Homo sapiens: one gene and its partner. The main gene of each other region encodes a partner of the protein of the gene in region 2 in a complex. Each region holds a gene or a part of one and is shown on either strand. Other genes may lie near its edges. The genes, in order: PDCD10 and STRIP2.

Region 1 (8,625 bases), on a different chromosome or scaffold from region 2:
CTTCCCTACTGTTTTCCCTCCCTCCCTTTCACTTATGATGATGATGGTGGTGGTGGTGATAGTGATAGTGGAAGCTAATGTAGATAAAATAGAAAAATGGTTTTTCTTGCTTTTTATATTTGTGAGATTTAATTACTTGAACTTTGTTTATGCTGCATACTTCAATTTTTCCCCCCTTTATGTTTGGTGAGTTTCAGTTTTACTAAAAGATAAGCTTATTTGGAATGTGTTGACTTTAAGCAAACAACAGTTTGAAAGTAATGAGGTTTTTGTTTTGTTGTTTTTTTAACTTTAGTACAGCATCTGTGTTTCAAGCACAGATTTAAGAGAATAATATAACCATCCTTTTTACTTTTCTTATTTTTTTTACTTGAAATTATTTAGACGTTGGTTTTACTTAAGTTTAGTAGCAGTTTTCCCACTAATTTAGAAAAATATGGACATATAATTTCCCAGAATTATTAAGGAAGAACACAAAGCAGGTATTTTAACTGATTCCATGATTTTAAGAAAGCCCTTATCATTATTTAGAGTTGAGCATTTGCAGCCCATTAGGCCATAATATATTGATGAATTGGTAGAGTTGTAATGCTTCCAAGTCTGCAATGAATCTAGTGAAGTCTCCTTTCCAAAATTGGTGTTCTGTGATCCCAGCCTGTGTGTTGGATTTGTGCTGGTGTTTTTGTTTTTAAGTGAGATTTCAAAAATGTGTAGAAGATTTTATTAGATTATTTGGGGTTTTAATATGATGAAGCAATGTATATTAAATATAGGGGTTTTAAATTTTTAATCTTTCCAGTTGGCAAGTAGATATTACCTTTGCACTAGTTATGACACTCATTATTTAATTTAAGGTTTCCTTGGGAAATGTAATGTCAGAGTACGGTTGAACTTAAGCCTCCCTTTTAAATCTGTTTTTTTTTTGTGTGTTTTTTTTTTTTAAGATTTCATGGGATGTCCTTTTGTCCCAAATTGAAAATATTTATTCTTTCTTTTTGTGATACTTTACTTGAAGGGAGCCCTGCTGTTGTTACTGGACTAAGTCAAACGCTAATGAATTCTGCTTTGCAACCTTGTCTTTCCTAATTATCTGGCCTTTCACCTCCCTCACCTGCCTTTGACCAACATTGGAAATTCTTAGATGTGATGAATTTGGCAGAGAGTCGCAGGATGTTTTTTATTATGTATTTATTTTATCAGAGTATATGATTGAACGACCAGAGCCAGAATTCCAAGACCTAAACGAAAAGGCACGAGCACTTAAACAAATTCTCAGTAAGATCCCAGATGAGATCAATGACAGAGTGAGGTTTCTGCAGACAATCAAGTAAGCAATTATTTGTTTTGTTTCTTCTTTTCTTAAAAGTACTTCCGAGGAACTACTCATCTACATTTTTTAATTTTGGTATGACTAACTTGAAATGCTTATTTGAAATAAAATCTCAAATTTTTAAATACCACATTTTATTAACTTTATGGCGTTTGGTTTCAGAGTACAGCATTTTTTAGAATGTTTAATTTTAAAACAACAATGAAATGTGCATAAACTGGAATGTAGTTTGAACTACATAAATGATGGGAAGATATAAATGTCAGATAAATGAATAGAGAAACTGGATATATCCTAGAGATTGGTAGTAAGATATACCAAAATAATTTTTATTTCAGAAATAGCAGCAGTCATTAAGGTAAGTAACGTACTCTTAGGCATGAGTAGTGTTTTCTAAGACTGACCAAATAGCCTCTAAATCCTTGCCTTTGGGGGATATAGGTTAAATAAGACCAAGAATACTCATGGGGCCAGAAGGCTGGCTGGTGAGCAGCAGCAAGAAGGGTCATCCTAGAGCAGTAGTTCTCAGACCAGGGACACTCTTCTGGAGTACAGTGAAGGGTGAGAGGGTAGGGGATTGAGTGAAAACATAATCCCTACATAAGTATCTTTAAACTAGAAAGTCTGATAATTTTCTTCAGCCTCAGTGGATAAAAAACAAAGAAAGCTGGGAATACTTGCAGTGTCACTATCAATGCATGGTTTTGGTGAAACCATAGGTAGATATTGCTGGGGAGAAAAGATTTAGCGCAGGTCTTTTTCTGGAAGAGGCTGTGACATATGTGGTAACTTTGAAGAACCTAAGGAGACTCACTTGGAATAAATAGTAACATTCATCTTTTGGAGTTTGGGCAGTGGGAGGAGTGGCAGCAGCCAGGCAGCCCAGCTTTGTGAAGGCCCTCAGCATGCCATGGCCCACATGCATCTGATATGCGCCTTCCCCACTTCCAGGATGCCCAAGAGGACGGTCAGCTCAGCTGATGGGACAGTGAGGGAAGATCCCAAAAGGAGATTGATGTGGTTGTCAGCTAAACCTGCTCTTTCAGTAGTGGAAATTGAAGCCCCAAAAGGTAGCAGGAAAAGATAAATCTTCAGGCAAAAAAGTGCAAACAAAAGAGAAAAGAGTAGGAAAGTGAAAACAAGCCAAAGTAGCTAAGAATAAAGATTTACCTGCAGAAAACAGAAAAACTAAAACTGAAGAGAGTCCAGCCTCTGAAGCAGGAGAGAAAGAAGCCCAGTCTGATTAATATCGCATACCATGTCTTATCAGTGGTTCCCCGTCTCTCTTCTTACATAATCCAGGAGAATATTTTTATCAACTATGTTGTAAATGCATGTTTTTTAGTAGCTCTAATGTTTTTTAATAGCTCTAGAAACATTTAAGGAGGGAATTCCACTGCATTCCATTTTTTAAGTGTAAATGCTTTTTTTTTTAAAGAGGTGAAATAATTTAATTTGCTGGTTATTTTTTGGTACAATGGGAAAATAATGTTGGATATTGAATTATGGGAAGCCTTGACTGTTATGGGTGTCAGCTTAACATTCCATAGATGGGTGGTTAGTTTTTATATCCCATAATATAAAGCATACTAAATGGCAAAGTGGAGTCGCAGTCCTGCATTTCATGTCTTGAACATTTTTAATTACTTCACTCTGTCACCCAGGCTGGACTGCAGTGGCATGATCATAACTTACTGCACCCTCAACCTCCTGGGCTCAAGCAGTCCTTCCACCTCAGCCTCCAGAGTAGCTAGGACTACTGGTGTACAACACCACACCAAGCTAATTTCTTTTTTTTTTTTTTAATTTTTAGTAGATAACCACATCTCCCTACATTGCCCAAGCTGGTCTCTAACCTCTGAGCTCAAGTGATCCTCCTGCCTTGGCCTCCCAAAGTGTTGGGATTACAGGAGTGAGCCACCACACCTGGCCTTAAATTACTTCTACTCTTCATGTTGTTTTTTAGTGGAATTGTTTCCTTGGGCAAACCACTCCTTGAGCCTGGCTCTACCTATCAGAATTGTGTGCACTCTGTAACATCTTTGGTCATGGTAGTCCTGTTTTTCTAATAACTTTGTTAATGTGCTGTGAAAGATTAAAGTATATAGTGTATATGCTATTAAATTGTGAATTGGTGGGACGTATGTGACAGCTTATCAACATTTGAAGGTACTGGTACTTGATAGCCTTTTAAGGTAATTTTGCCTCAGTTGTAAGCTGGAAAGTCACTGGAATAACTTTAGAGAATAATAATGATACGTGGCTTTTTAGATTTTGCAGTACATATGTTCAGAATTATGTACAAGTTGAAATGTCTGTGTACTGATCCTCAACACAACTGATGAAATCTCAATTATGAAAGAAAAAGAAAACATTCATCTTTTGAAAATAGTATTCTTTGTCATTCACATTGAGAAATGCTATTTTAGCTTGTTTGGATACCTAGCTAGTTTGGATACTCTCTTTTGAGTCACATAAAGAGAGGAATATGTCCCATAGAAAATAATGGTTCGTGATAGGTATGCAACCCAGCTATCAAGGAATGACCCTACTCTTTGACAATAATTAAGGGCCAGGAATATAAAAAAGGCTTTTAATTGAATAGCCAAAATCTGTGTCACAAGGGACAAACACTAAGGGTTTTTTTGTTTGTTTTGTTTGTTTGTTTTGTTTTTGAGACGGAGTCTTGCTCTGTCGCCCAGGCTGGAGTGCAGTGGCGCCATCTCGGCTCACTGCAAACTCTGCCTCCCGGGTTCATGCCACTCTCCTTCCTCAGCCTCCAGCGTAGCTGGGACTACAGGCGCCCGCCACCATGCCTGGCTAATTTTTTGTATTTTTAGTAGAGATGGGGTTTCACTGTGTTAGCCAGGATGGTCTCGATCTCTTGACCTTGTGATCCGCCTGCCTTGGCCTCCCAAAGTGCTGGGATTACAGGTGTGAGCCAACACGCCTGGCCTAAGGGTTTTGTATTTTACCTTTCCTATGGGAAAGCCCCAGCTTCCTTTTCTACTTTTAATATGTGAAGGAGGAAGATAATCAACTGTTCATGGAGTTTTATTTTTAATCTGGTACAAGTTGAGCATCCCTAATTTGAATATCAAATTCTAAATGCTCCAAAATCCAAAACTTTTTGAGCACCGTGACATGACACCATAAGTGGAAAATTCCACGTCTGACCTCATGTGATGGATGGGTTGTAGTCAAAACACAATCAAAACTTTGTTGTATGCACAAAATGTATGCATATATGGATGCACTTTATGAAACATAAATGAATTTCATGTTTATACTTGGGCCTCATCCCCAGGTCTAAAGACTTCTGGTCTCAAGCATTTTGTTTAAGGGATACTCGCCCTGTATAGTTAAAGTAAACATGTTTGGCCTGTAAAAGGATAAATTGTCAGTGATCCCAAACTTAGTTGTTTAGACTATTTATTTCTAAAGTTTTGAAATAATTTGGTAAGTTTTCATTTGCTTTGATAATCGTGTACTTGTTGATGAGCCATGACACATTTCTATGAAGATTTGACATTTAAAATAATATTTGCAGCAGATTTTGCTTCAGATCATCGAAGTAGGTTTATATAATCAATGTCATCTTAATAACAATCATTTATATAGGACTTATTATATGCTAAGCACTATTTTAATCACTTTACATTTATTTACTTATCACAACAACCCAGTAACAAGTGAGGAAATTGAAGCAGGCACAGAAAATTAGGTAAGGCCACAGAACTTACCTATTAAGTGGTAGAGCTGGATTTGAACCCAGGCAATCTAATGCCAGGTGTTCACTGCTGTTTCCCAATCACAGACTTCCAATGTTGATGTAATCTGGAGATTGAAAAATAGAGTTTCTGCCATTTGAAAGAAATGTGAAAAAGGATATTTTAACATAGAATGCCAGTACGTGAGAGAGATAACAGTATTGTGGTTGAAACTGGCATAGAAATGTAGGCCCAGAGCTCTCATCCTGTCACTTTGACATCCTCTTTCCCCCTACAGAGTCCCTGAGACATCTCTGCTAAACCGTCTGTGACTCTAGGGAGCTGCGGTTTGAAAACCACATTATTAGCAGCACATTTTAGTCATAAGGAAATTGAGCTTAAGAGTCTTGTCTATAGTCATTGACAGAGGCTTTCTTTAGGGTGTTGTTTTCTTTATGAGGGAGTAATAATACTTCAGTTCTGTTTTCTAGAGTGTACTAATTTAGCACAATTGAATTAAGAGTAATGGTGGCAATGAAAATTTACTTCCTAACCATTTGAGGAGGGATAATTTGCCCTGGCAAGTTTGTTGATATGTATGTTATTTCTGAGACTAAAATTCAACCACATATGAATAGCATAGATAGGCTAAAGTATAATTATTTGTATCACTGTCATATATTGGTACATTTTCATGTATGTTCTTACCATTATTAATTGACAAATTAGTGGATAAAATTGCACTAAAATAGAAAATGATTTCTTCTTCAGGCGTTTCTCCAATATTTTACTTTCTTATATCTAAGGTAGTTATCCCCTTTATTCATTTTAGCAACATTTTTCAATAAGCATATGTCATATACATATTACACCAAGTACTATAGGTGATGCTATAGATTGTATCAAAGTACAAGTAAAAAAGAATCCTGACAGCTAATAAATATTCAGGCAATTTTGAATATATTAGCAGACCTAGATTTGAATCTGTGTTCCAACATTTAGCTATGTAACCTTGGATATAAGTTGCTTAACTTCTGTCATTTTAGTTTGTGCCTCTGAAAATGAGGGTAATGACTTGTGAGAATTGAAAGAAATGATGTACATGAAGTGCCTAGCACAGAACCTAGCATACATTCAACAGTACATGCTATAATAACATTGTGAAATGAGGATTTTCCTCCCTTTTCTCAATGGAGTTGATAAGGAAAAATGATCCAGCAAATATTTCAAAAGGCCTTTTGATCAATGAATGTGTGTGCCTGAGTACATTTGAGCTATGCAAATATGTTATAAAATTAATTTGTATTTTTTTTGAAGTCCAATACATCTCAACTAATGGAAAACTAGTGGAGACTCGTGATTTAACAGACCAAAATAAAAAAGCCAGGCATTTATTTACTGTTTGTAATCTGCATTTGCATATTCTTAGGCTAAAATTCAGCAAGGTTTATTTGTTTTAAGTTAGGAGTTTTCATGAAGGGTTCAGAATAGATTTTTTCAGAGTTTTCCAGTCTAAACCAAACTCAACATAAAGCACAGGGATTCCCTTTCATTAGTGCATTTGCATAAATGCGTATCATGCAAATTTGGGTGGCATGATTAGAAACTCTACTTTTCTATTGCAGTTTTTTGATAAGATGTATGTTTACGTTTCATCTGAAGCCTTTGCCTTTCAGTGTAATGTTTCGCAAAGCTGCGCTATTAGGTTGGTGCAAATTGCTAAGTTCCTTCTCCTTCTACTCATACTATCTGCCTCTTATCACAGAATTCATCTGCACCAAGCCGCATTCATTAGTTATGCGATATTTATTTTACCCTCAAGTTTTTTCTCAGTTCTTTATCTGGTTAATTGTCTATAGTGGTTTTTTTGTCCTGGTATTTTCTCTCGTAGGAAACAAACTCTCTGGTAGTTACTAATATAATTTAGCTTCTCTATGTGCACACCTTGGTGCCATAAATGAAAATACTTTTCTGTGTACATATGGATAACATAATATTTGACATACATTGCTGCAGATTGTTTCTAGAGAACATTTTTTCTACAATTTGGTAGGCATTTAACAGTCTTTTGCCTCGTGTCCAAACAGAGGCTTAGGAATAAATGGCCTTGGTTGACAGAGAGCTCTGTTCCAATAAGGCATTAAACCTTAGCTCCAAGTTTTCAAACCTGACTCATCAGCAGTCACCTGAGGAGTTGCGCCTCCCCCCACCCCCTTTTAAAATAGAGATTTCCAGTATTTATCAGCAGGTCTTTCTTTTTTTGTCCAGCAAAACCCTCCCTTCTTCTCCCCTGTGTTTTTGTCTCCCTAGGTGCATGAGGCAACATGTTTCAGACCCACTCTTTTGACTTGTAGAATCTAGCCACTGTTATTGTATATGAAACATACGCTCATTTTGATGACTAGCCCCGGAAACACATTTTATTCCTCTTTAGCAGAATATTGAAATACACTACAAAGTAAGACTATATAAACTTCTGTCTGATCACTATGTAATTTGCTCCATTATATTCCATTTTAAATAACTCCATTGTGGATTTGGAGAAGCTTGCATATTTAGAGATTTGACATGTTTTATTTGTTGAAATTGTAATTTTTCTCACAGAATAGTCCTATGACAGCATTTTATTAAACAATAGTGGGTTTATGTCCATCACACCAATATACAAAGATTCAACTTAAGCCATAAATGAAAGGAATAGTTATCTAATTAAAAACTGCTGTTACTAAACCAGAGGCAAAAAAAAATTAGATAACATTTATGTAAGACTTACTGTCCTACTTGAATATGTAATGTTTCAATGTTTCAGCCCAATACCAGTGTTTGACCTGAGAGAGGTAATAAGTAAAATATTATTGAAATAATCAATGAAAATGGAATTACTACTTCAGAGTACTCTAAAATACTTTTTTAAAAAATATCAAAATTCTGTATGCTTTTAATTCTTAAAATTTCTACAAGCTTATTTACTGAAAAATATGCTGGGAAACACCCACATGCACACAGAAACCTGGACACTGAGGTTTTTTTCCCCTTGAAATAGGAATGTTGAAATGTTTTAGATAGGAAATAACTGAAATCTGGCATTTGTAATTAGTATTAGTAATAAAATGTTATGTTTAGGATGGTGCAGATTTCCATCTTATTCATTTCTTCACAGTTGCATTGCATTTGAAGTTTTTGTTGTGACTAACAGCTAAGAGAATGACTGTGAAAAAGAAGGTTTGTCGCAGAGAATGTGAGACTATTTGAGAATGCAGAATTACATCAAGTTCAATTTGGCGGAAAAAAATTGCTATGAGGTTAAAATGTGGAAATCAAAAGGGGCTAGTTAGAAAGGCAAAAAAAAGTTCAGAAAAAATGGTGCATGGATAGGAAGAACAGTCAACTCAAATGAGAATTATTCATTTCTTCTTTTTTTTCTTTAGAAAGGGGAGGGAGGTGATGATGCATATATAGTCAAAGGATGATTGCTGGGAAGGTTAAAGTGCAAGAATATTGTGATGTTGTCTCCTCTAGTAATTTAAATATTTTCCAAAGGGAATAGTGACTGATAGTAAGTGTTTGAAAGAGGAGGATATTTGG
Region 2 (16,544 bases):
TCCAGAGAACAGCATAGGCAAGACCCTGAGACAAGATAGAATATGATACCTTGGAAACCGCAGGGAGGAATCTGCAAGTGCCGGTTTCTTCATCAGTAACATTGGATTCGTAAAAACACCCTGTCGGGGAGAGGTATGATGTGATATTTGGAAAGCGCTTACTGCAGTGCCTGGCACCAAGCTCAGTTCAACAATCCCCCAGACCCTTCCTAAAGCAACCAGGCTGGGGACAGCGATTTGGTCCCACCTGTTCCCCTGAGCCTACGTCTTTGGGGCTTCTATTACCAAGCCAGACTGTCTAAATATTTACTACAAGCTACTTTTTAAATTCAGGAGAGGGCAGATCAAACAGCCTCTTTTGCCCCCAGTAACAATGAGCCCTTAGGAAGCATCTAAGAGAGAGGAAGGAAAGAAAGGACTGGCGAGCAGGTGAGGGTGGGGGCTTGCTCTACCCTCAACATTTACACACCATGAGGAAGAGGCCCCCTACAGCAGAGAAGGGCAGATGACAGGAGCAGCCCTCGAGGGCACCACCAATTTCAGTGATGGAAAAACTCCCCCATCCCACCCTTAGACCTCCAGTCTCCCAGCCAAGCCCTAGCTCCGGGCGAGATGCGTTCTCTTCAGAAAAACGCTGAGAATTCTCAGCTTCCAGAGACAGCGAGTCCCTCGTTTCGGGCGATGTCCCTGGCCACCTGGCGGTGCCATCCCTCCCCTGAGACTAAGCGGGATATGGGACGTGTGCAGGAGCCGGGATATGGGGGGCCGGGTCGGTGGTAACAGGGAAACGGAGACTGCTGTGGAGCAGTAGGCGGAGACTAGAGCTCCGGAAAAGGTCGCTACAGGGACGGGGGTGAGAGCTGAGAGACACCGAGTGAGGAGCACAGAGATAACCCGCCTGATCTCAAGGCCCAGCTTTCGCGAGGTGTGGAGCCTGTAGCTAACCTAGGAGTCTCCGTCCGCCAGCAATGCCGCAGGACTAAAAAGATCCCCTCAAAAATCTCTTCATTGAGCCCCCACCTCCTCGAGTCCCGCTCCGGCCGGTCGAGCAGCCAATCGCCTCGCGGGGCGGGGTTGCGGCGAGCTGCCGTAACCAATAGAGGTGGAGGGGGCGGGGCCTGGCTCCCGGCGCGCGGCGGTAGGGTCGCCTCCGGCAAAGCGAGCTGAACCCTGAGGGGAGCCGCTGACCAGCAGCATGGAGGACCCCGCCGCGCCTGGGACCGGGGGCCCGCCCGCAAATGGCAATGGCAACGGCGGCGGCAAAGGGAAGCAGGCGGCGCCCAAGGGCCGCGAAGCGTTCCGAAGCCAGCGGCGGGAGTCAGAGGTGAGGAGCCCGGAAAGCTTCGGCTGGGGCCCGGAGACGCCCGCCGGCGGGAAGCGGCGGCTGAGGTGATTCGGCCTCGGCCCCGGAGCCCTCGGCGCGCTCGATCAGCCCCGCGCAGTGGGCGCCTGCGGGGTCCTAGCGGCTGAACTCTGGGCTCTTTGGCCCGGACCAGTGTCCGCCCGTCTCCTGCCGCGGGTTGGGGGCTTTCTAGCCCTCTGGCTTTCCCCCGCTGCGCGAAGATGAGCGCGGTATTGAGCGGACCAGATACTTTCCAAATATTTATCTCACTTAATCGCTGCAGCCCCCTGAAGCAGAAATTCCGATCCCAGTTTATAGACGGGGGAACAGGAGCGGAGAGGTTAAGTGACTGGCTTGAGGGGTGGGAGGCTGGAGCTCAGCCGCAGGAAAGCAGGATTGGCGAGTGGGGCAACCGCAGTCCCCCTCCCAGGCTGCCTGCGGCGGGCCCCTGGGCCAGCCGAGGGACTTCTGCCCGTTCCCTGCCCGTCCCCTTCCCCCCGTAAGTCTTAGGCCGTTTCGGGAGCGCCTTCCGCGGACATCAGGCCCCTGCCTGTGAGGGCTGAGCGAGACGGGATTCAGGCAGGGGCAGTCCTGGAGTGGCTATCTGGAGGGAGCAGTCGCAGGATACAGATAGGAGTGTGAATATTTCGATCTCTTCCTCCTCTCCTGAAAAAAGAAACCCTATCTATGAAGATGAAAGCGTTGAATTATTATCACTTCCCTATCCCCTCATTGAGGCAGTTCCCATCAGTTGGATCTGAGCGGGGATCAGAATAGACGACAAAATATCAGATGTGGCAGGGTCTGCAGATATCATCTGGTATAACCCTTTCATTTTACAGACCTAAAAAAAAGAGGAGTGACTTGCCCAAGATCAGACATCTGGCATAGTTGGTGGTCAAGAACACCAGACTTTGGAGTAGTCAGACCAGGTTTTGACTCCTAGCCCTATCATTTACTACCTGTGTGATTTTCGGCACATTACGGAACCTCTCTGAGCTCCAGTTTCTTCATCTGTAAGATGAGATTAACACTGCCTACCTCAGAAGGTTGTGATAAAGTCAAAATGAGATAATTGACTATAAAATGTTTGGCACAGTGCAGGCACAATGCATGTAATTAGTCAGTACATAGTAACTCTTAGTATATTGCTATCATCATCATCATCATCATCATCAAGTGGCAGAGCTGGTACTAGAAACCAGGTTTTTGGCATCCCAGACCTTGCCTTACCATTTGAATAGCATTTCAGTTTCCAAAGTGATTTCATGTATGCTTTACATTTTGATGTAGGTAGAGTAGGAGGAATCCATTCATTTTTTTTCAAGGTAGAAATGGAGATGAAAAGACTGGCCCAAAGTCACCACCTTGCAGAGGCAGAGAGCTCAGCCCTCCTGTCTTGCTAGATGATACCCGCCACATCATCTCCCTCCCTACTTCAAGATGAGTCTGGTCTTTTAGGGCACCCTGTACCTCCTTCCCCCACAGAGACATTGTTCTCGTTCAAATGTTTTTTTGGGGAGATGAGCCATTCATTAATTCAACAATTATTTATCGAGGACTTTCTGCCAGCCACTGTTTTAGGTGCCAGGGATATATCAGTGAACAAGATAGGGTCTTCGCCCATGGGGAGACAAATTGTGAGTAAATAAATAAAATAATTTCAGAATGATATGTTCTATGGGGGGAATAAAAGTCTCTGCCTGGGTCTCCCTTCTAAAGTTGCAATCTGTTCCCCACCTGTCAAGTCTTCTTCAGGCAAAGGCTCTGAGAGTACAGTCCTTTGCTTTTGCCAGTACTTTGCAGTGTCCAGAGACTCGAAAGCTTTCCACCTGCACCGCGGTTTACCTGCTGATTGTCTGCAGCTGCACTCTTCATGCCTGGAAATGAACAACTGCTGCGATCATCTCTATCTGGGCTCATTGCCTGCCAAAAGCCTGGCTGGAAAGATTAGCTTTCCTCTACCTTCTGCTGCAGCAGGACTCCTTTTACCTGCCAGTACATCCCCTATTACCACAGTACCCAGGTGCCAGATCTGCTTTTCTTCTCTCCCTCTTTTTGCTTTCCTGTGGAAGGCAGTCCTTAGAGGAGATGGGATTTTTTTCCTCTCTAGGGCTTTTAGAAAATCACTAGAAGAGAATTACTGTGGCACAAGTCAAGAGAGCCTCATCGTGTATCACTGTTTATGGAAGCACTGTTGACCTACCTTCTCCCACTGGCTTAGTGTGTGAACATCCCAACCTAAAAAGGAAGCTAAAGAATAATTGTTTGCTTAATAAGAAGAGTCTTAACCTAATAAAAGGATTCACCTCAGACCTCTTTTAGCCAGATCTGGTTTATTGATCTCAAACTCCTTGACAAAGTTTTAACTGGTCTGTGGTAAAATGAGGAAAATTCAGGTCATCGAAGTGAGTTTTTCTAAAAATTTAGTTCAATATATTAAATTTAAGAATGTATACAATTTAAAACAGTGTTTTTCAAACTGCTATAGGGGGCAACCTGTTAATTGAGGCTAAAATTTTTATTTTAAGAAATAAAGCCAGCATGATGGCTCATGCCTATTATCCCAGCACTTTGGGAGACTGAGGCAGGTGGGTAGCTTCAGCCAGGAATTCGAGACAAGCCTGGGAAATGTAGGCAGACCCCATCTCTACAAATAAATAAAAAATAAAAAAGATTTAGCCAGGCATGATGGTGCGCGCCTGTTGTCCCAGCTGCTCAGGAGGCTGAATCACTTAAGTCTAGGAGGTTGAGGCCGCAGTGAGCTGTGATCATGCCACTGCACTCCAGCCTGGGTGAGAGGAAGACCCTGTCTTAAAAAAAAAAAGAAAAGAAAGAGAATAATAGAAAATATCACTGCATCACATGCAGTAAAGGTAAATATTTTGTTAAACTTTTGTTCCAGTTTGTGTGTGTGTGTGTGTGTGCTGGGACGTAATGTAAAAGGTATCATTTTTCCAAAAAGTTTGAAAAACAATTTTTAATGGCTGTTCTTTATTCTGAGATTCTGTCTTTCATTTTTTGAATTTTTTAAAGTTTTTAAAGTCCTTACCTATCAGAATAAAACAGCAACAACCCTATGTCATTTGCCACTCTCCACCTTTTTCTTTTTCCCTACTGTTCCTTTTAATCCAAAAGTTTGGAAATCTTTGCTATAGTGGATTAAAACATGATTCGCCTTGTTTTTTTTTGTTTTTTTTTTTTTTGACAGAGTCTCACTCTGTCACCCAGGCTGGAGTGCAGTGGCGCAAACTCGGCTCACTGCAAGCTCTGCCTCCCGGGTTCACGCCATTCTCCTGCCTCAGCCTCCCGAGTAGCTGGGACTACAGGCGTCCGCCACCATGCTCGGCTAATTTTTTGTATTTTTAGTGGAGACGGGGTTTCACCGTGTTAGCCAGGATGGTCTCGATCTCCTGACCTCGTAATCCGCCCACCTCGGCCTCCCAAAGTGTTGGGATTACAGGCGTGAGCCACTGCGCCCGGCCAATTTGCTTTGTTGACAGTATAAATTGGCATAATGTTTTGGGGGAGCAACTTATATACAAAGAGACTTTAAAATGTTCATAAGATTTGATTCATTAATTTTCTTTATAAAAATCTATGCTTAGGAAATATCCTAAATATAGAAAAAAGTGTAAGTCTATTACAGTTTGTTGCATATAATAAAGGAAAATTAAAAACCATTTAAATATTCAATAAGGAACTAGTTAAGTAAACAAATAAATGTACATCCATTTATACAACCATTTAAACTAATAGTCATAATAATGTGAGAAGAATGCCTTTATAGTATAATATTAAAATCATAGAGTGACCACTCACATAGTGCTACGAAGTGCTAGGCCGTGTGCCTTTCCTATATTAACTCATTTAGTCCTTAAAATAACCCTATGAAGTAAGTCCTGTTATTATCCTCATTTTACAGATGGGAAAACTGAGCAGGTCATTTTCCAACAATTCGCTGACACCAACTGGATGTCCTACAGTTCAATTCGATTCTGACACTAACTACCTAGAATTAGCACAGACCCCCAAGTTAAGGGCTCAGTCCTACAAGGCCCTACGTTAGACACCAGCCATAGGTGGGATCCCCAAGCTATCTACACTTCAGCCTGGCCAACTACAAATTAAGCGGTTATCATGATCTTCCTTTCAGGTTCCATAATTTGCTAGAATAACTCACAGGATTCAGGAAAGCATGTACTTAGAATTATAATTTTATTATAAAGGATATGACTCAGAAACAGCTAAATGGAAGAGATGCGAAGGACGAAGTATGGGTTTGGGGTGATGCAGAGTTTCCTTATCTTCCCTGGGCAGCACTCTCCTAGCACATCTGTTTGTTCCCCAACCCAAAAGCTGCCTGAACCTAGTTGTTTCTGGGTTTTCCTATGGTGTTTCATTACCTAGACATAATTAAACTATTGGCCACATGACTGAACTTAATCTGTAGTACCCCTCCCCTCCCTGGATGTGGGGGTGGTGCTGAAAGTTAAACCCTCTAATCATGTGCTCCGTCTTTCCTAACATAAGTCACCTCATGAGCATAAATTCTGGTAAAGCTGACAGTGACTCATTATGAATAACTGACACTCCTATCACTCAGGAACTTCTAAGAGTTTCAGGAGCTCTGTACCAGGAACCAGGGGCAAAGAACAGTATATTTTTTATGTCACGCTGAGGCACAGAGAGGTTAACTTGTCCAAGATCAAATAGTATGTGACAGAGCTGAGATTGAAAATTTTAAAAATTCATATGTATGAACATATACAGGAAGGAAATATCCCAAAATGTTTAAGTTAGAAGATGGGATTATATTAAAACATATTTACTAGGATTATAAATTTATACATACAACGTCATGGGAAATGTAATCTTTACTACAACTTGGAGTGGAGATGTTGCATCATTTGACAATCCTAAAGTTGCAGAATATTAGAGCTAAAGAACCTCTTTAAAAATAAGGAACTATGATCCACAGCATGAGACTTGATCTATATCATACAGTGGGTTGATGACAGAACTGAAGCTAGAATCCAGTTCTCTTTGTTTCTGTCTGTCTCAATTTTATATAAATCAGCTAGATGCTCCTCTGGTCTGTGTTCATGTAGATTAGATATGGACACAGACCATAGCTTTCATATATGTTTGAGATCCTGGCCCTTTATTCAGACTTTCCGATTTTGTATAGGAATCCTCAGCCCCTCCCCACACTGAGACTCAAGTTTTGGCTTGGCGTAGGGTACCTCTGAGATGAAAGACCCAAATAGGACTCTCCTAACTGTCTCCCTGATCTAACCTTGGCCTCCATGAGGGGAAGAAGATAAATAAGGGTACAGTCTTCCCTTGGCAACCCCTTTTTCCAAGTTATCCCAGTTACCAACAAAATTTCTCTGTTACAGGGCTCTGTGGACTGTCCCACTCTGGAGTTTGAGTATGGAGATGCAGATGGGCATGCAGCCGAGTTGTCAGGTATGAGGTAGATGGGTCAGTAGCTAGTGGAAGAATGGCCAGGAGGAGAGGGAAGGGGCCTGTGATCTCCCTGGAAGCTTGTCTGTTCTCACCAAGTGGCTGTTGAACAAAGGCTGTTCTCCACATTCCTTTTCCTCTCCATCCAAGTGGTAAATATCTCTTTGTTTGTCTTCACATTTCCTTCTGTGATTCTCCTTGGCTATGGTATTCTTCATTCTGTCATTCTATCACTCTTTCCTGCTCACTCTTCTTTATTCTCTTTGAAAATAACTGATTTGGTGCACTCTCAAATCAGTTTTCTCTCCATCTTCTCCATATTCCTTCTCTTTTTCTCTTCCTGTCACCCATATCTTTGCCTGCCTACTTCTTTCTGCTGCCCTCTTTCTATCCCATGCCATCTCTTTTTCCTTTGTCTCCTCTACCTCCATCTTTTCCTTCTTCCTCTCGCAACTGCCCCTTATTAAAATCTCAGCAAAGTCCGAGGAAAAACTATAGTCAACTGGCCAGCTGAGCAAGGCTGGACATGTCACCTGCATCCATCATAGTAGAGTTCTGCTTGGATGTTTATGAGCTGGGGTTAAGTAATTCCATTCTTCTTTCAGTGCTGGCCTGCTTGTCTCTGTCTGGATTTTTAGCTTAGGGTAAATGTGATCTCCTCACATTAAGGGCCTCCATGTTACATGTGCTATGAATGCCAGTTATTAATAAACAAGCTTTGGGTGGAGATGTGTGAAATTTAAATATTCTGTCACATGGAAGTGATACTTTGAGGCATGCTTTTTCAGAGAAAAGAGACAAACAATTTTAAAGACGTTCTTGTGCATGAGCACAGAGAATAAATTTTGTGATGAGTGACAGAGAAATAGAGAGCTAAGTTTAATAACCAACAAAGGATTAGAATTCATAATAGGAATATGATATAAATATATATATATTTTAAAGAGAGGAGAGAGATGAGCAACCCAACAAAGAAATGGGCAAAGAATATAAATGGGAATTTATAGAAGAAAAAGCCAAATGGTCAATAAATATATGAGAAGATATTGAACTTTATTAGTATATGGGGAAAAGCAAATTAAAATAATAAAATATTATTTCACAATCATCAGAGTGCAAAACTTAAAAGCCTGGGGTTGGTGAGGGTGCAGAGAAATTAGTACTTTTATGCACTGCTAGACATGGGGGGAGCAGAGTATAAAATTGAAAAGCATTTTGCTTATATCTTGCAAAGTTGAAGATGTGCACATATTGTGACCCAACAAGTCTACTCCTAGATATCCACTCTAAAGAAAATTACACTTGGGCACAAGAAAATGTACAAAGATGTTTATTGCAGCCTTGTTTATCAGTGTAAAAAGTTGGAAACAACCTACAATGCTCATCAGTAGGGAAATGGATAAACTATAGCATATTAGTGCAGTAGGCTATTGAATAGCCATTAAAATAATAATTGATCTAAATCAATATATTTATTTTTTATTTTTTTATTTTTGAGACAGAGTCTGGCTCTGTTGCTTACGCTTGAGTGGCACACTCTCAGCTCACTACAGCCTTGAGCTCCTGGGCTCAAGTGATCCTCCCACCCCAGCCTCTCAAGTAGCTATGCCTATGGTCATAGGCATGCCCTACCATGCCCAGCTAATTTTGTGCCACCATGTCCAGCTAATTTTGTGCCACCATGTCCAGCTAATTTTGTTTATCTTTTGTAGAAACAGAGTCTCACCATGTTGCCAAGGCTGGTCCTGAACTCCTGGGCTCAAGTGATCCTCCTGCCTTGGCCCTCCAAAGTGCTGGGACTACAGGTGTGAGCCACCACACCTGGCCTCAACATGTTTCAGTATCAATAAATGCTTGGCCAGGTACGGTAGCTCACATCTTGTAATCCCAGCACTTTGGGAGGCCGAAGTGGGTAGATCACCTGTCAGGAGTTCGAGACCAGCCTGACCAATATGGTGAAACCTTGTCTCTAGTAAAAATACAAAAATTAGCTGGGCATCGTGGCATGCACCTGTAGTCCCAGCTACTGGGGAGGCTGAGACAGGAGAATTGCCTGAACCTGGGAGGCAGAGGTTGCAGTGAGCCAAGATCACGCCACTGCACTCCAGCCTGGGTGACAAAGTGAGACTCCATCTCAAATAATAATAATAATAATAAATGCTAAAGATAAAATTGGGACAAAGGATCAGTAACAAAGGAATTTATACAATAGGATACTGCTTGGATAAAAAAGTTTTTAAACAGAGCAATATCATATGTTTACAGGCATATGTGCATATAGCAAAAGTAGAAAAATAGGCTTGTGAAGGATACACACCAATTTCATTATAGCAGTTGCCTCTGGAGAAGGGAATAAGATAGACTGGGGAGCAGTCTGAAGCAAATATAACAAATGCTAACATTTGTTTGACCTGGGTAGAAGATAATACACAGGTGTCTTAAATGTACTATTCTGTTCTTACCTGTATATAAAAATTCATAATCTAAAATTTAAAAATAAAAAGACCAAGACTAAAGTTCAGTACCTAAGAGCCTTGCCCACTTTTCTGATTTGGTTTTTGGTGCTTTAATCTTAAAAATATATATATTCACCTCTCCACTAATGACTGAAGAATTTAAGATTCAGTGATGGGATTTGCTTCTGGTCACTCCTAGATTCTGGAACTTAAGACTCAAAAGCCCTGACTCCCAGACAAGGTGTTTCTCAACCATTAGACAGCTGGCTGGAACATAAGTGAATTTCTCTTGCTTTGTGAATTACCTGTGACCTGGTTAAATTTCCAGGAAGGGTCTCAGGTAGGGAGCAGAGATTTAAAGGAAATCTGTTCTATCATCTGTTGACTTCTGTATTTCAGTTCTTCATCTTCTGTAAGATGAGGGTACATATACAATGTTCTGGAGAGAGATAGAGAGAGTAGGAAAGGGCATTTTTATTTCTTTTCTTCTTTCTTTCTTTTTTTTTTTTTTAAGAGACAGAGTCTTATTCTGTTACCCCAGGCTGGAGTGCAGTGACATGATCATAGCTCACTAAAGCCTCAAACTCCTAAGCTCAAACGATCCTCCACCTCAGCCTCCTAAGTAGCTAGGACTACAGTCATGTGCCACTACACCTGGCTAATGTTTAAATTTTTTGTAGAGATAGGGTCATGCTATGTTGCCCAGGCTAGACTCAAACTCCTGGCCTCAAGCAATTCTCCTGCCTCAGCCTCTCAAAGTGCTGGGATTACAATCCTATAGGTCTGAGCCATCACACGTGGCTGGCATTTTTATTTCTCATAAGCTTTTTGCATTTTGTATTGAGAGGCTGCTGTTAGCAAAGTTAGATTTTCCTGGGCACAGCAGCCCTTTGACAACCATAGCTGTTCTCTAGAGTTTTTTTTGCAGCCTCTGCTTTGTGGCTGTGGGCAGGAATCTAAACTTCTATACCCTTTGAGGAAACTTAGCAGGGAGAGAATGAACTGGTTCCAACCCTGAAGAACCATCTAGCACTTACTTTTCAGCCCTTGCCATGGTTTCCTGATCCAGCACAAGGATCTTTCCTCTAAGTTTCAGGAGTTGTGTTGCCCTCCTCTTCTCTTAGAGATGGGATAGTTCCTGGTTGGGTTGACAAAGCAGGAGTTGCAGCCCTGAGAAACAGGAGTGATGAGATTAAGCTCTCTGTGCTGCAGTCCTCCTCTTGGCCCTCACCAAATGTTGAAGGCTGCCTTCTCTGCTGCAGCAGCCAGCTGGCAGGAAGAGGACAGGTTTGATGGTTTAATCTCCCAGGGACACAAGTGGCTATTTTTAACGTTGCTCTGAAAAGGAGGAAGCTAGCTTTGGATTCATTGGACACAGGAATGTGTTGGAAGCTTCAGCTCTTTCATGCCACCCTCTCTACTTTGGGCCTCTTCTTTAAGGATCTCCCGAATGTGACTGTTCTGTCTTTCCTGCCACAGAATTGTATAGTTACACTGAGAACCTGGAATTCACCAATAACAGGAGGTGCTTTGAAGAAGATTTCAAGACTCAAGGTAATTCCAGATCTTTACTCATAGAGACCTGCTTTTTCCTTTTATGATATACCAGCCTGATCTAGTAAAAGACTAAAACAAAGTGCGATCCTTCATCCCCTCTGTATTAGTTAGGGTTCTCTTAGAGGGATAGAACTAATATGATAAATAGATAGATATATATAAAGGGGAGTTTATTAAGTATTAACTTACACAATCACAAGGTCCCATAATAGGCTGTCTGCAAGCTGAGGAGCAAGGAGAGCCAGTCTGAGTCCCAAAACTGAAGAACTTGGAGTCCGATATTCGAGGGCAGGAACTATCCAGCACAGGAGAAAGATGTAGGCTGAAAGGCTAGGCCCATCTCTCCTTTTCATGTTTTTCTGCCTGTTTTATATTTGCTGGCAGCTAATTAGATTGTGCCCACCAGATTAAGGGTGGATCTGCCTTCCCCAGCCGGCTGACTCAAATGTTAATCTCTTCTGGCAACATCCTCACAGATATACCCAGGATCAATACTTTGTATCCTTCAATCCAATCAAGTTGACTCACAGTATTAACCATCGCAAGTCCACCCCTTGTCAGCTCGAACTCATACACATCTCCTGAGATCATACATAATCTTCAATTAAAGACAATAATAAGGGCATAGTTATGCCTAACATAATTGTACAAAGGATAACATAAATATCCTTTGTACAACTGGAAACTCACCAATCCCCAACCCAAATACTATTATATAAAGTTAACAATACTTAAATGCTGATATGAAGTCAATAAATCTTATGTCACATGATAAAGGAGAAAGAAAATAAAATGAAGATATTAATACAAGTGTATACACGCACAAACATGTTTTTAACAAAAGAAGAAGGAAATACTCATGACCAGCTGGTCACGTGGTCGTAGCTGGTATTGATGACTACCTTCTTCTACTACCCATTCTGTATTCCCTTTGCATTCAGCAAGCAGCTTGGCAGGTCGTGGTTTTTTTCCTGGTGGAGTAATCCAAACCTTCATTCCTGAGGGGTCTGGGTCATTTGTAGTCCTGCCTGGATTGGGGTGTTGTAGTTTCCCATCGACCTTAATCACAGGGCATAGTAATACTAAGAGACGCCCTAATGGATCTCCTGTATTCCATGCATACTCTTCCTTACCTCCGTTGTGGAGTAGTAGACTGATTTCATCTTGATAGTCTGGGTCAGTCACCCCAGCCAACACTGTAACTCCCTTCTTAGCCTGTTGACTTAAAGGTAGGAGGACCCCAAAGTGTCCAGGTGGCAATCTTAACTTCCAGTTTAATGGAATCATTGTTGTGTCTCCTGGTGGCAGTTTCCTCCCTCTGGAGCTAAAACCTCTAGGCCAGCAGAACGTAATGTCACGGGAACAGGAAGCAAAAATTTTGCTACTAGATCACTAGGGGTGATGGTGAGTGGTGCCACTTCCACCCCTTGATTCCTGGACCGGTGAATCCTGACTATGGGAAAAACAGTACCATATGTTGGATGCTGATTCAGAGCATACACGGCCTTCTGGAGAACTTTGCCCCAGCCCTGCAAAGTATTGTCACCTAGTTGGCATTGTAATTGTGACTTCAAAAGGCCATTTCACCGTTCTATCAATCCAGCTGCTTCAGGATGATGGGGAACATGGTAAGACCATGAGCATGAGCCCACTGCCACACTTCTTTAGCCATGAAATGAGTGCCTTGGTCAGAGGCAATGCTTTGTGGAATACCATGACGGTGGATGAGGCATTCCATGAGTCCATGGATGGTAGTCTTGGCAGAAGCATTGCTTGCAGGATAGGCAAACCCTTATCTGGAGTAAGTGTCTATTCTAGTGAGGACAAACCTCTGCCCTTTCCATGACAGAAGAGGTCCAATACAATCAACCTGCCACCAGGTAGCTGGCTGATCACCCTGAGGAATGGTGCCTTATCCAGGGCTCAGTGTTGGTCTCTGCTGCTAGCAAATTGGGCACTCAGCAGTGGCCGTAGCCAGGTCAACCTTGGTGAGTGGAAGTCCATGTTACTGAGCCCATGCGTAACTTCCGTCCCTGCCACAGTGGCCACTTTGCTCATGGGCCCATTGGACAATGACAGAGGTGCTGGGGAAAGAGGCTGATTGGTGTCCACAGAACGGGTCATCCTATCCACTTGATTATTAAACTCCTTCTCTGCTTTGGTCACCCACTGGTGAACACTCACATGGAGTACAAATATCTTCATAGTTTTTGACCACTCAGAGAGGTCCATCCACATACTTCTTTCCCCAATTTTTTTGTCACCAATTTTCCAATCATGCTTCTTCCAAGTCCCTGACCATCCAGCCAAATCATTGGCTATAGCCCATGAATCAGTATTTAATCGCACATCTTACCATTTATCCTTCCATGCAAAGTACACAGCCAGGTGCACTGCTCAAAGTTCTGCCCACTGGGAAGATTTCCCTTCACTGCTGTCCTTCAGGGATGTCCTAGAAAGGGGCTGTAGTGCTGCAGCCATCCACTTTCAGGTGGTGCCTGCATATCGTGCAGAACCATCTGTAAACCAGGCCCTGGTCTTCTCTTCCTCTGTCAACTTATAGGGAGCTCCCCATGAGGCCATCAGTGCAGGCTGGGGGAAAGAAGCCAGGGTGGCAGGACTGGAGACCATGGGCATTTGAGCCACTTCCTCATGTAACTTACTTGTGCCTTCAGGACCTGCTTGAGCCCGATCACGTATATACCACTTCCATTTGATGATGGAATGCTGCTGTGCACGACCCACTTTATGGCTTGATGGGTCAGAAAGCACTCAGTTCATGATAGGCAGTTGAGGTCGCATGGTGACTTGATGACCCATAGTCAAACGTTCAGTTTCCACCAAAGACCAGTAACAGGCCAAGAGCTGTCTCTCAAAAGTAAAGTAGTTATCTGCAGAAGATGGCAGGGCCTTGCTCCAAAATCCTAAAGGCCTCCACTGTGATTCATCTCTGGGAGCCTGCCAAAGGCACCAAACAGCATCCCCATCTGCCGCTGACACCTCAAGCACCATTGGATCTGCTGGGTCATATGGCCCAAGTGGCAGAGCAGCTTGCACAACAGCCTGGGCCTGTTGCAGAGCCTTCTCTTGTTCTGGACCCCACTAAAAACTGGGTGGGGTCCAGATAAATGGGCAGGAATAACACACCCAAATGAGGAATGTGTTGCCTCCAAAATCCAAATAGACCCACTAGGCATTGTGCTTCTTGGTTGTAGGAGGGGCCAAATGAAGCAACTTATCCTTCACCTAAGAAGGAATATCTCAACAGGTCCCACAGCACTGGATCCTTGGAATTTTACTGAGGTAGAAGTTCCCTGAATTTTAATCAGATTTATTTCCCGTCCTCTGGCACACAAATGTCTCACCAATAAGTCCACTGCATTTGCTACTTCTTGCTCACTGGATCCAATCAGCATAATGTCATCAATGTAATGGACCAATGTGATATCTTGTGGAAGCAAAAAGCGATCAAGGTCTCTCCGAATAAGATTATGACTCAAAGCCAGAGAATAGATATACCTCTGGGGTAGGACAGTAAAGGTATATTGCTGTCCCAGCCAGCTGCAGGCAAATTGCTTCTGGCGGGCCTTATGGACAGGAATGGAGAAAAAGGCACTTGCCAAGTCAATGACCACGTACCAGGTACCAGAAGATGTGTTAATTTGCTCGAGCAATGAAACCACATCTAGTACAGCAGCTGCAATTGGAGTCACCACTTGGTTAAGCTTACGATAATCCACTGACATTCTCCAAGATTCATCTGTCTTCTGCACAGGTCAAATGCGAGAGTTGAACAGGGTTGTGGTGGGAATCACCACTCCTTTGTCTTTCAAGTCCTTGATGATGGCACTGATCTCCACAATCCCTCCAGGGATGTGATATTGTTTTTGACTTACTATTTTTCTAGGTAGAGGCAGCTCTAATGGCTTCCATTTGTCCTTTCCCACCATAGTAACGCTCACCCTACCAGTCAGGGAGCCACTGTGGGGGTTCTGCCAGCTACTAAGTATGTCTATGCCAATTATGCATTCTGGCACTGGGGAAGTGACCACAGGATGAGTCTGGGGGCCCACTGTAAGTCAGGCCTGAGCTAAAACTTCATTAGTTACCTGACCTCCATAAGCCCCTACTTTAACTGGAGGACCACAATGACATTTTGGGTGCCCTGGAATCAATATCAGCTCAGAGCCAGTGTCCAGTAGTCCCCGAAATGTCTGATCATTTCCCTTTCCCCAGTGCACAGTTACCCTAGTAAAAGGCCAGAGGTCTTCTTGGGGAAGGATGGGAGAAAAATTCACTGCATAAATTGTTGGTAATGTAGTGGGGTCCTTCCTCAAGGGAACCCGGCCTCCCCTTCATTCAGGGGGTTCCAGGTCTATTAACTGGCTCAAGTCTGGAAATTGAGAGGCCATGATTCTCTGTTTTTATAATTCAAATTAGTCTTTCGTCCATTCGACCTACAAGTTTTCTGCTTGTATAAAGTAGGAATATAGTAGGCTTCCTATCAGTTTCACTTCTAGAAACACTGTGATTAATTAGCCAATGCCACAGCTCTACATGAGTCAGACTATTCTGATTGCTCCTTTGCCTCTGCCATCCATTATGGTAGCTATGCTCACCTTGCCTTTGATGGTCGAGTGCTTCCACTTGGCCCCTGCCACCTCGGGATCCAATTATTCCCATTGTATTTAAATTTTGTAGTTGAGTGACTGTGGTTCCCACCATTAGCTCTGGCATAAGGAGAAAAGCAATTACAGGACTCTTCAAAGATGCAGTTGCTGCCTTCATAAATCTATTTTATAATGCATTGGTCAAGGGTGTATCTGCTGGACCCTCCCAGCTGGGATGAGTAGATCTAAAGTGACTAATCCACTCCACCATCCCAATCTCCCTAAGCCTTTGGATCCCTTCCTCTACATTAAACCAAGGGAGAGCAGGCATTTCCAGCTCACTCAGAGTGGGCCATCTTTTAATCCATAATTCAGCTGACCAAATAAACTATTAGAACCTTTTTTAACTCCCCAAGCTGCAACATTGAACGCAGAGCCCCTACTTAGTGGGCCTAAATCAATAAATTGAGCCTGATCCAACTCTGTGTTCCTTCCTCCATCATCCCATACCCTTAATATCCATTCCCATGCCTGTTCTCCAGATTGCTGTTTATATAAATTAGAGGACTCAAATAGTTCTTTTTGAGTGTAGCACACCTCCTCATGGGTCACACTCTCAACCTCACCTCTAGGGGCCTGCCAGGACTTTCGTCTAGTTATAGGTCTAGAACCAAACAAAGGTGTTGAGGGTAGCTTCTGAGGAGAAGCAATATTATCTTGCCTGGCAACTGTTTCAGGGCAACTGCCATCACTGTTGCTTCAGGCAGTGCAGGGTTTATCTCCTCAGACAAAGGTGGAAAGGCTGATGGCAGCATGGGTCAGGGAGGAGATATTGCCACTACTGGGGATGGGGAAACTGTTCCTCCTGGCAAAAAAGGTTCATCAGAGTTTACAAACTCAGTGTGCCCAGCTTCACCAGGGTCCTCCCACATGTCCCCATTCCAAGTTTCAGGGTCCCATTCTTTTCCAATAAATGCCCTCACTTTAACAGTAGACACCTGACAAGGCTGTAAATGCATCTTTCATTGCAGTTCAGCCATTCACATGACAAAAGCTTGTGTCTGTTTTTCCACAATTTCAGCTCTTTCTCTGCAGGAGATAAGACTCTCA

The links.
Region 1: STRIP2 (region 2) and PDCD10 share a complex: the UniProt entries of both Homo sapiens proteins name them as parts of the core of STRIPAK complex.

The regions. Positions count from the first base shown.
Region 1 is NC_000003.12:167,688,298-167,696,922, reverse strand, and holds part of PDCD10 (programmed cell death protein 10), read left to right. Parts: intron 1-1,200; coding exon 1,201-1,327; intron 1,328-8,625. UniProt on the Homo sapiens protein: Promotes cell proliferation. Modulates apoptotic pathways. Increases mitogen-activated protein kinase activity and STK26 activity. Important for cell migration, and for normal structure and assembly of the Golgi complex.
Region 2 is NC_000007.14:129,433,278-129,449,821, forward strand, and holds the start of STRIP2 (striatin-interacting protein 2), read left to right. Parts: upstream 1-1,154; 5' UTR 1,155-1,195; coding exon 1,196-1,324; intron 1,325-6,744; coding exon 6,745-6,814; intron 6,815-10,746; coding exon 10,747-10,821; intron 10,822-16,544. UniProt on the Homo sapiens protein: Plays a role in the regulation of cell morphology and cytoskeletal organization. Required in the control of cell shape. Calmodulin-binding scaffolding protein which is the center of the striatin-interacting phosphatase and kinase (STRIPAK) complexes.